Homo sapiens: one gene and its partners. The protein of the gene in region 2 purifies or fractionates together with the protein of the main gene of each other region. This does not show direct contact. Each region holds a gene or a part of one and is shown on either strand. Other genes may lie near its edges. The genes, in order: SERPINB12, HRNR and DSG1.

The links.
Region 1: the proteins of HRNR (region 2) and SERPINB12 purify together in Homo sapiens (affinity purification with mass spectrometry, with the first as the bait; one large-scale study listed by BioGRID). This does not show direct contact.
Region 3: the proteins of HRNR (region 2) and DSG1 purify together in Homo sapiens (affinity purification with mass spectrometry, with the first as the bait; one large-scale study listed by BioGRID). This does not show direct contact.

The regions. Positions count from the first base shown.
Region 1 is NC_000018.10:63,545,218-63,548,873, forward strand, and holds part of SERPINB12 (serpin B12), read left to right. Parts: intron 1-409; exon of another isoform or gene 410-513; coding exon of another isoform or gene 514-516; intron 517-1,683; exon of another isoform or gene 1,684-1,732; intron 1,733-3,656. UniProt on the Homo sapiens protein: Inhibits trypsin and plasmin, but not thrombin, coagulation factor Xa, or urokinase-type plasminogen activator. May play a role in cell differentiation.
Region 2 is NC_000001.11:152,217,673-152,221,328, forward strand, and holds part of HRNR (hornerin), read right to left. Parts: coding exon 1-3,656. UniProt on the Homo sapiens protein: Component of the epidermal cornified cell envelopes.
Region 3 is NC_000018.10:31,328,117-31,331,772, reverse strand, and holds part of DSG1 (desmoglein-1 preproprotein), read right to left. Parts: intron 3,585-3,656; coding exon 3,429-3,584; intron 1,882-3,428; coding exon 1,737-1,881; intron 73-1,736; coding exon 1-72. UniProt on the Homo sapiens protein: Component of intercellular desmosome junctions. Involved in the interaction of plaque proteins and intermediate filaments mediating cell-cell adhesion.

The DNA of each region.
Region 1 (3,656 bases), on a different chromosome or scaffold from region 2:
TTTTTTTTTTTAGCTTGCCTTGAATAGCACTGTCAGGCTAGTTGACCTCCAAATTTCTTTCAAACCCTAGTGTAATTCTCTGGCACTTGAAGTCACGGGTACTAGAGAGGCTCGCTTTCTTCAGCCATTCAGTGATATATTACATGTGTAAAGTACCAAATGCAGCTTGACATTTAGTAAGTGCTCAAGAAATTCTCATCCCCTTGTTAGTGATTTATCAAGCTACCTTAATGTTTAGCTACATTTAGTGTCAGATTTCATCTTCGCTCATTGAGCAATCGCACCACACCAAATTTTTAGGCTTGTAGGGCACAGTCATCTGTAGTTAGATCTTTGTTGAATTATTTAAGAGGATAAACAGATGCAAATCTAGATTAAAGACATTCAAACAAGTTTATACTCTTCTCAGGTACCCAGAAGCCCAGTGAAATTTGAATATTATCCCCCAACAGTAACAGATGTGACACCTACTTCCAGGAAGCCAGGCAAGAACTCATCCTGTTCTGAATATGAATGGTATACCCTTTTGGAAAGGCTATGATGGGCAACATGAAGTAGTAATCAATGACATAAAATATTAAATAATTCACGTGTTAAAATTTTCCAAACTCTTGCAAATCATAACCAATGACTAGACTGGTTTTTAGAATTTTGTGGAAGAATTTAGAAAAAAAAATAATTATTTTCAAATGATCAAGGAGTAAAGAAAACTAACAGCACGTTTCTTTTCTATGCTTACTATTGATAATTCAGAAAAACTCTGGATGCTTAGTCATTAATTTCCACTGGTCAATATCTTATAAAACTTGTTTTATTTATACACTAGCTACATAAGTAGTTTATATTTTCCATAAAGGCCATCTCTCCATTTTAGAAAGTTTTCCTTTGAATTTCTCTACACCTAATGTATTTGTAGGGTCATGGTTCAGATAATATTGTTGTCTGACAACAAGTTAGAAAAGGAAGATAAAGGGCTCAGTAGGAGAACCAGGTCAGAGAGGGGTCCTCGTTTGTCCTTAAGACATGTCAGTTCCTGGAGTTTGACTCTTCCTAGCTTTCTCCTAGTTGCTCCACACTTTTTGCCCTATCCACTGACCCTCATGTTTACAGTCAGTAACATAACACGATTGTAGAGTGCTAGAACCAAAAGTAACATCAGAACATGCTTTGGCTAAGTTTAAAAAGTTTTGTGTTTTCAGTTGTAAAATATGTGTGTCAATAATCAAATAATAATTCTCATCCCTACCACACACCTACTGCAGGAAAGCAAAAACTTTGAAGTAGCTTAGAGCACATTTTGCAAATCCTATGTAATAACTTAGAAAGATTTTAGAATAATGCAAAAATTCAAATATAAGAAATCATCTAAGACAATGTGTATATGAAGTAAAATACATTTCTGCTTCATGGTCTTCTAGTATAGAAATTTGAATTGAAAAGTGTGAGCCAAGTATTGCTTTGAGGGCTCTATAAAATTGGAAAGAGCAAAGAAAATATAAGCATATTAAGTTAAATATTCAATGTAGTTAAAAGCATAGCATTTGTTTTAAAAATATATGCCACTCTTTTCTTTTCCCTTTAATCTATCAATGATGATTTTACTCTGGATTCCAAAATGGCACTGGAAAAGTTCCACAGAGGGAGGGGCAAAGTTGATATATTTCCATTCCCGACAGGGTGTGGAGGGAAGCTTACCTGACCAGCTGTTAGCAGCAACTCTGAGGGCAAGAAGGTAAATGCTCGAATTGCCTGATATAATTTTTAACAATGAACACTGAATTGGAAAACCATTTTAAAGGATAGAAACCCAGAGGAGATGTGATTGAAATAGAAGGATATACTTGTTTTTATTAAGTCAAATACTTAAAAAAAGTGAGTTAGTTTTATGATGTTTTGGATTTTCTGCAGATGTGGCAGTCATCACTGGGAGATATTAACAATGCTTGTCACCTCGCTCAGCCCCAACCACCTGGTCAGATGCCTGATGTATATGATTGATTTTTTTAAAATGTAGATGTTTGAATAACTTTTTAAACTTTCACATACTTGACATATTGTATTTTATCTTTTAATGAATTATTTCTGAAACATAAGATGGTATAATATTTAGAATATCTATATTTTAAACAATGTGAGTTAGATTTTTTTTTTTTGCACCATAAGTTGGAAAACACTTTCGATGGTATTGTTCACAAGTATTTCTTTGTTTTTAGATATTGGTTATTATTTAGTTTGCTGTAACCTGGTTTGAATATTTGTTCCAGCAGAATAGCATCTATTTGTGTAAAGTTTGAATTTCATTCTTGAGTTGTTAGTAGCTTTGTGGGAATTATAGAAATTATAAGACATGAAATATTTTTGGAGTATAAATATTTTTCTTCCTACTATATATAGGAAAAAACAGTTTTACTCAGAATATTTTGGGTTGTTAGAATGTCTATCTTGTCTAAACCTTTACATTTTTACTATAAGGGAAAATTGTAATAAATGAACTTTTTCTTATACAGTAAATGAATTTTTTTTATATTGCAGTAAGTGAACTTTTTCTTATATAGTAAAAAATTAATAAAAAGCTGATTCTCTTATGCAGAATCTCTGTTAATTACAGCTTCCTGCAGGATATATAAAGTTAATATGAAATGCTAAATAGTCTTCTAACATTTCAAACATTAGGATTATCTACAATGAAAAATGGGCAGATGACAGCAAATCAATCCATAAATATTATGAAGGGTTCTCATGTGCTACCATTGTGTTCTTCACGGATGGGTACAAGGATGAATTAAAAACACTGAACCTACCTTCAAGACAATTATGATTTGGAAGTAAAGACATCAGTATAAAAAATAATTACCTTACAGTGTGATAGAGGAGTTAAGGGAAACAAATGTTGTATGGTTATTGTATACAGTGGTGACTAATTAACTCTTTAGAGGGAGAGGTTGGAGGAAAGTGGAAGAAGGTTTTACGTGTGTAACAAAGCCAGAAGGAAAGAAAACAAGCAAAATAGATCATTTGTTGATACCTCAAACACCATAAAAATGGAAAAAAATACCTTTAAAAAATTAAAAATGTTACACATTTCAGATAGTCAGTATTTAAAAATGTATCTTCAAAGCTAACAATGTAAGTTAAAATCTTACAGGAAAGATTTTCTTTCTTGTAAAAAATTGAAAGTAGATGAGGTTTTAAAATTAAGTTGAAAATACATTACCCTCAAGGTTTTGAAGTGATAGAAGAGAGTGCCAGAAAATATTGACAATTTTCAGTAAATAAGAGTAAAAACAATTCTATAATAACAATAAAGAAAATAAAGGAAGGTAAAACAGGGGAAATTTTTTTAAAGAACAAGTTTGAAAAACATAAAATGTTTATATAATATGAAGAGTTCATAATGATCCATAAATAAATGATCAAGACCTCAATAGATAATTGAAAGATGAACAAGAGACAGTTAATATGTGAGAATTTATAAAGAGAAAAGAACACATGGAGAAACATTCAAATGTTAGCAAGTATCAATGCCATGTAAATTTAAAAATAATACAATTTTCTTTTTATTTTTTAAGTTATTAAGAATGGCAATAATATCTGAAAAAGGTGATTATGATATAGCAGTTTCATCTGTAACTTTTGGCTGACAGTATGAAAGTTAA
Region 2 (3,656 bases):
TGTCCTGATGTAGAACCATGCTGTCCTTGGCTACAGAAGTGCCCTGAGCCACTACCATGCTGACTGTAAGCAGAGGAATGTCCTGAGCCAGACTCATGTTGACCAAAGACAGAAGAGTGACCCGAGCGAGACTCATATGGGCCACGGCTGGAAGAACGACCTGAGCCAGACCCATGTTGGCCGTGGCTGGAGGAGTGCCCCAAACCGGACCCATGTCGGCCGCGGCTAGGGGAATGGCCAGATCCAGACCCTTGTCGGCCGTGGCCCGAAGACTGACGGGAGCCAGACCCATGCTGACCATAGTGGGAAGACGAACCTGAGCTAGATCCGTGTCGTTCACCCCTAGATGACTGTCCTGATCTAGAGCCGTGTTGTCCGTAGCCAGAGGAGTGACCTGAGCCAGACCCATGCTGACTGTAACTAGAGGACTGCCCTGAGCTAGACTCGTGGTGACCAAAGCCAGAAGACTCGCCTAAGCCAGACCCATGTTGGCCACTGCTGGAAGACCGACCGGAGCCAGACCCATGTCGGCCGTAGCTGGGAGACTGCCTTGACCCAGACCCACGCTGGCCGTGGCCTGGAGACTGGCCAGATCCAGAGCCCTGTCGGCCATAGCCAGAAGACTGACTTGAGCCAGAGCCATGCTGACCGTGGCTGGAAGACTGACCTGAGCTAGCTCCATGTTGGCCACAGCTCGATGACTGTCCTGATGTAGAACCGTGTTGCCCATGGGTAGAGGAATGACCTGAGCTAGATCCATGTTGACCGTAGCCAGAGGACTGTCCTGAGCGAGACTCTCGGTGACCTAAGCCAGAAGAGTGACCGGAGCCAGACTCATATGGGCCACGGCTTGAAGACCACCCTGAGCCAGACCTATATGGGCCATAGCTGGAAGACTGCCCGGAACCAGACCCATGTCGGCCACGGCTAGGGCTAGGAGACTGGCCAGATCCAGACCCATGTTGGCCGTGGCCCAAAGACTGACGGGAGCCAGACCCATGCTGACCATAGCTGGAAGACGAACCTGAGCTAGATCCATGTTGTTCGCTCCTAGATGACTGTCCTGACCTAGAGCCGTGTTGTTCGTAGCTGGAGGAGTGACCTGAGCCAGATCCATGCTGAGTGTAACCAGAGGACTGCCCTGAGCTAGACTTGTGACCAAAGCCAGAAGACTGGCCTGAGCCAGACCCATGTCGGCCACTGCTGGAAGACCGACCGGAGCCAGACCCATGTCGGCCATAGCTGGGAGACTGCCCTGACCCAGACCCACGCTGGCCGTGGCCTGGAGACTGGCCAGATCCAGAGCCATGTCGGCCGCGGCCCGAAGCGTGATGGGAGGCAGACTCATGCTGACCATAGCTGGAAGATTGACCTGAGCTAGAGTCATGTTGGCCGGAGCTTGATGACTGCCCTGACGTAGATCCATGTCGTCCCTGGCTAGAGAAGTGACCTGAGGCAGAACCATGCTGACTATAGCCCTGTCCTGAGCCAGACTCGTGTTGCCCAAAACCAGAAGCCTGGCCTGAGCCAGACTCATAATGGCCACAGCTGGAAGAACAACTTGTGCCAGACCCGTGTTGGCCGTGGCTGGAGGAGTGCCCTGAACTGGACCCATGTCGGACACGGCTAGGAGAGTGGCCAGATCCAGACCCTTGTCGGCCGTGGCCCGAAGATTGATGGGAGCCCGACCCATGCTGACCATAGCTGGAAGACAAACCTGAGCTAGATCCGTGTTGTTCACTCCTAGATGACTGTCCTGACCTAGAGCCGTGTTTTCTGTAGCCGGAGGAGTGACTTGAGCCAGATCCATGCTGACTGTAACCAGAGGACTGCCCTGAGCCAGACTTGTGACCAAAGCCGGAAGACTGGCCTGAGACAGACCCATGTGGGCCATTGCTTGAAGACCAACCGGAGCCAGACCCATGTTGGCCGTAGCTGGAAGAGTGCCCAAAATCGGACCCATGTCGGCCGCGACTAGGAGACTGGCCAGATCCAGAGCCCTGTTGGCCATAGCGAGAAGACTGACTTGAGCCAGAGCCATGCTGACCGTGGCTGGAAGACTGACCTGAGGTAGCTCCATGTTGGCCACAGCTCGATGACTGTCCTGATGTAGAACCATGTTGCCCATGGGTAGAGGAATGACCCGAGCTAGATCCGTGTTGACCGTAGCCAGAGGACTGTCCTGAGCGAGACTCTTGGTGACCTAAGCCAGAAGAGTGACCGGAGCCAGACTCATATGGGCCACGGCTTGAAGACCTCCCTGAGCCATACCCATGTGGGCCATAGCTGGAAGACTGCCTGGAACCAGACTCATGTCGGCCACGGCTAGGGCTAGGAGACTGGCCAGATCCAGACCCATGTCGGCTGTGTCCCAAAGATTGACGGGAGCCAGACCCATGCTGACCATAGCTGGAAGATGAACCTGCACTAGATCCTTGTCGTTCACCCCTAGATGACTGTCCTGACCTAGAGCCGTGTTGTCCGTGGCCGGAGGAGTGACCTGAGCCAGATCCATGCTGAGTGTAACCAGAGGAATGCTCTGAGCTAGACTCGTGGTGACCAAAGCCAGAAGAGTAGCCTGAACCAGACACATATGGGCCACTGCTGGAAGATCGACCAAAGCCAGTCCCATGTTGGCCGGAGCTGGGAGACTGCCCTGACCCAGACCCACGCTGGCCGTGGCCTGGAGACTGGCCAGATCCAGAGCTGTGTTGGCCGCGGCCTGAAGAGTGACGGGAGGCAGACTCATGCTGACCATAGCTGGAAGACTGACGTGAGCTGGAGCCATGTTGGCCAGAGCTTGATGCCTGCCCTGACGTAGATCCATGTTGTCCCTGGCTAGAGGAGTGACCTGAGCCAGAACCATGCTTACTATAGCCAGAGGACTGTCCTGAGCCAGACTCATGTTGCCCAAAGCCAGAAGTCTGGCCTGAGCCAGACTCATAATGGCCACGGCTGTAAGAGTAACTTGAGCCAGACCCGTGTTGGCCGTGGCTGGAGGAGTGCCCCGAACCGGACCCATGTCGGACGTGGCTAGGAGACTGGCGAGATCCAGACCCTTGTCGGCCGTGGCCCAAAGACTGACGGGAACCAGACCCATGCTGACCATAGCTGGAAGACGAACCTGAGCTAGATCTGTGTCGTTCACCCCTAGATGACTGTCCTGACCTAGAGCCGTGTTGTCCGTAGCCAGAGGAGTGACCTGAGCCAGATCCATGCTGACTGTAACCAGAGGACTGCCCTGAGCTAGACTTGTGTTGACTAAAGCCAGAAGACTGGCCTGAGCCAGACCCATGTGTGTCATTGCTGGAAGACTGTCCGGAGCCAGAGCCGTGTTGGCCATAGTTGGGAGACTGCCCTGACCCAGACCCACATTGGCCGCGGCCTGAAGACTGATGGGAGTCGGAGTTTTGCTCACCATAGCTGGAAGACTGACCTGAGTAGGAGTTATGTTGGCCAGAAAAGTCTCTTTGAAAACTCAGTCTTCTGGATATGGATTCAGTCCCAGGTTTAAGACTTCCTCTGACGTTTCTGGAATAGGAATCATTCTCTCCTGCACTCCAACTTGAATGACTAAAAGAGGATTCTTGCCGTTTGTTCTCCTCTTTTTCAGTTTCTTCTTGTTCCTCTTGGTGCTGGTGAGTGTCATCTCTCAG
Region 3 (3,656 bases), on a different chromosome or scaffold from region 2:
TGAAGGCTATTTTTGAGTTCAAATTGTTCGGTTCATCTGCGTCAGTAGCATTGAGTATCATCACCAGTGTATCTAGAAATTAAGGAAAATTGATTGCAAATGGGTGATTTACATTTTTGTTACAGTAGAGTATATCACCTTTCCAAAAAAGTGTTAGAGTTAGTTGATCCTTATGATGTGGACTTCACTGTCTTCCCTTTCTACTCCTTCAACATATGGATATCTTAGCTCTTTTCTATATCTTTGCCTAACAAGAAGATCACATTTTACTAGGAATCTAGACATTGTTGATAACTGGGAAACAAAGGAAATGTGTTATTCTGGCTTTCTATTTCTTCTTCTAGCATATTTTCTTCTTTTTTAAAGGATGCTGTGGCGAAACAAAATGATAATAAGGCCAGACCAACATTTTCCCAACTTTCTCAACACTTTCTAGCTATATGATCTTGGCCTCAATTTTTATATCTATAAATGGGGATGATATTACTGCCATCCTTACTGAATTCATGTGAGAATTAAATCATTAATAAGAGAAAACTATATAAAGTTCCTAATGAATAATGCACGTTTGATAAATATACATTACTACTGTTTTGTTTTGGGTGATCCTTCGTCAAGTGCAAGGTAATTAGTAGATCTAAAGAAATGCTTGCTTAACTACACATATTGTCCTGTCTCTTATCTTTTCATTAATTTTATAAGTAGTTTTGATGAAGATTATTAGATTATTGGAGAATGTGGAAAACTGCCAGTGCTCATTCATAACTTTGGAATTGTTCTCTACTCTCCAACTCCATTTTAAATACAATTTTCCTACAAATGCTTCATGGCATCTGTCATCCCCCACCTGTATTTATTGTAGCATAACCTTTAAAATGTTTTCACTAGATAATTAACATTTATATACACTTATGTAATTTATATAATTAAATTCCATGCAACTATTGAAAGCAGTGAAACAATTATGTGTCCTGATATGGAAATATGTTCAAAATATATTTATATAAAAATTCATGTTGTGGATTAGCATGTAACAGATGATACCATTTATGTTAAAAAACATGTGATTTATGTTTACATAATTATGGAGCGCATGTACACAGTGCATACCTCTGAAGAATGGTACTAGGAAATGCAGACAGCAGATTTTTGTTCCCTTTTACTTTCCATATTACATAAATTTAATGAGCATTTTATAATAACACTTTTAAAAGTTGAAAGTATAGGTACAGTATTTTAATGAATAAAAGTAAAGTGTAGGGATTTTTGGAATTCACAAGAAATTTTATCACTTAAAGGTTAAATCACAAAAAGAAGTTTTGTGTGGAAGTGATTTCTATAAGTGATTTTAAAGTAGCTAACTTTAAAAAAGGGGAAAAAACGCAGTAAGAGCAGAAAAGGGTGGGATTGTCCTTCTACACAGTTAGACTGGGAGGCTAAATTCACATCCCGATGCCTCTGCCACCATTGTGCAAAATGCCTTTAAAATTTCTTGTTAGGACTCTTCTACAGGGCTGGCCTGCGAGTTATGTGAGAAAAATCCTCCTCATTGCTTTGGAATCACGCCTTGTGTCCCTCAGTTTGGAGCTGCTTCCGTAGTTGAAAGGAAAGACTTGCTATTCTGCATCTTTTCTATAGTTTATCTCTTACATTCATGATGTGTACTTTGACATAGTTTAGTCTCCAGTTAGGTGCCTGGCTGTTAGGAGTGATTTGGAAGCCACTACATTACTTACTTGCATTAGAATTTTCTTCTATTTGTCCTGCAAATGTAGCCATTGAAAACACTGGAGGGTTGTCATTTATATCCAAAACCCTGACTCTGAGCTCTAGAGGCCTCTCTAAATCTTGGCCCATTGAGTTCAGAGCTCGGCAGTAGATCTGGGAGAGAAAAGATAAATAATTATACAGTGAAACACAGATTTATTAAGTTCTTACTTTGAGCATTATGCTAGCACTGTGGCGAATTAAAAGAATTATTATGTCTACTTAGAACATAGGCACAAGCCCTACTTACAGTCACTAAGGGAAAGCAAATGTGGCATTCTTAAGCTAGGTAGTAGCTACATGGGGGTTTATATTATTATTATGATTATTATTATTACTATTATTATTTGTATTTGAAGCGTCCCTAAGTGTAATGTGTACTATTTTACAAAATGGCATATTTCATATATAAAGGCATTATGATACTAGCCTGGGCAATATAATGAGACCCTGTCTCTAAAAAAAAATAAAGACGTAAAAAAATGCATTATGCCCCAAGAAAAGCTAACAGGGTAGCATGCCTTTTTAAAGTTTGTGGGGGATCATTGTGGGACAGAAGGGAGAAATAGAGATTTGGAATTGAAGGCTAAAGAATTAAAGTTGTGTGAGGAATACAGGCAGGCGGTGTGAGTGAAAACTGCAAATATCGATTATTATTTGAAGGTATTTTGGGATACGGACTGGTGGGGTTTTAATAGAAGAGGTAACAGGAGCAAAATAGGGTTTCTTTATTTCTATTTTTAATATTAAGAAGTGTTGGCCATGACGATAGAGAGAAATGGGAGTAGCCAAGGAGCCAGCAGAAGGGAGACAGAAAACAGAGGTGATGGAATGATTCTCCAAGTAAGTGGCAATTATAGGACCATGGAAATGTCTTGGAATATGCTGTGAGAAAAAGCAAACAATTGATCCTGCTTTTGATTTAATGAAGAACATTTCTGAGCTGGGCGAGTGAGAAATAATTATGGGAGTTTGTGATGGATGGCCTCAGCCTTTTTCATAAAGTTGGTCACAAGGTCAACTGCTTAAAGTGGAAATGAGGTTGAGGGTTTGAAGAGATAGGATACTTAAGCTATGTGACAGCTCCTGTAAAGAATGGAGTGAGATTCACTTAAGAATGGATGCATTTTCAAGGTGCATTTGGAGCTCAGGTGAGCTTGAGGAATATGAATTTATAGTAAAGTATATTTGCTCAGAAAACAGTCCTGCAGTAGCTCTAGAATCATTTACTTGTCATTAGACCTAAAATAAGGTAACATTCTTTACTGAATTTATAATAAAGTATATTTGCTCAGAAAACAGTCCTGCAGTAGCTCTAGAATCATTACTTGACATTAGACTTAAAATAAGGTAACATTCTTTACTGAATTTTTTAAAAAAGGAAAAATTAAAAAGTTAGGTAATTGTCCTTCCAAACAAATACTCTAGTTTGCCAATGAGGACAGTATAGAGGTTAGCATTTTTGCTGACACTTAAGTGAAACATTTCCTTCTCTCTTAATCTTTGCATTTCTTTTCAGTCGTGGGATGCTCGTGAATTAAGAAACAACCAAAAATGCCAAATATTGAGACTCTTGAAATCAAATTAAGTATGATCTGAGATTAAGAACTTCTGAGAAGAATTTAAGCATGAACATATATATTGACATGAAGTCCACTTACAATGAAGAAAGGAGTGACCTCTCGATCAACTATGGATGTTATATTAATTTCACCAGTTTTCTGATTAATGACAAAGATCCCATATGGTGGCTGATCAATTCCTACTCCAGAGATGCGGTATGTAACTTGCTGGTTTGCAGCACAATCTGAGTGAATCTGCAGAAGGAACACAAGTAAAAATATTAGAGGGAGCAAATAGAGTTCTATATTTGATATACGACAGCTTTC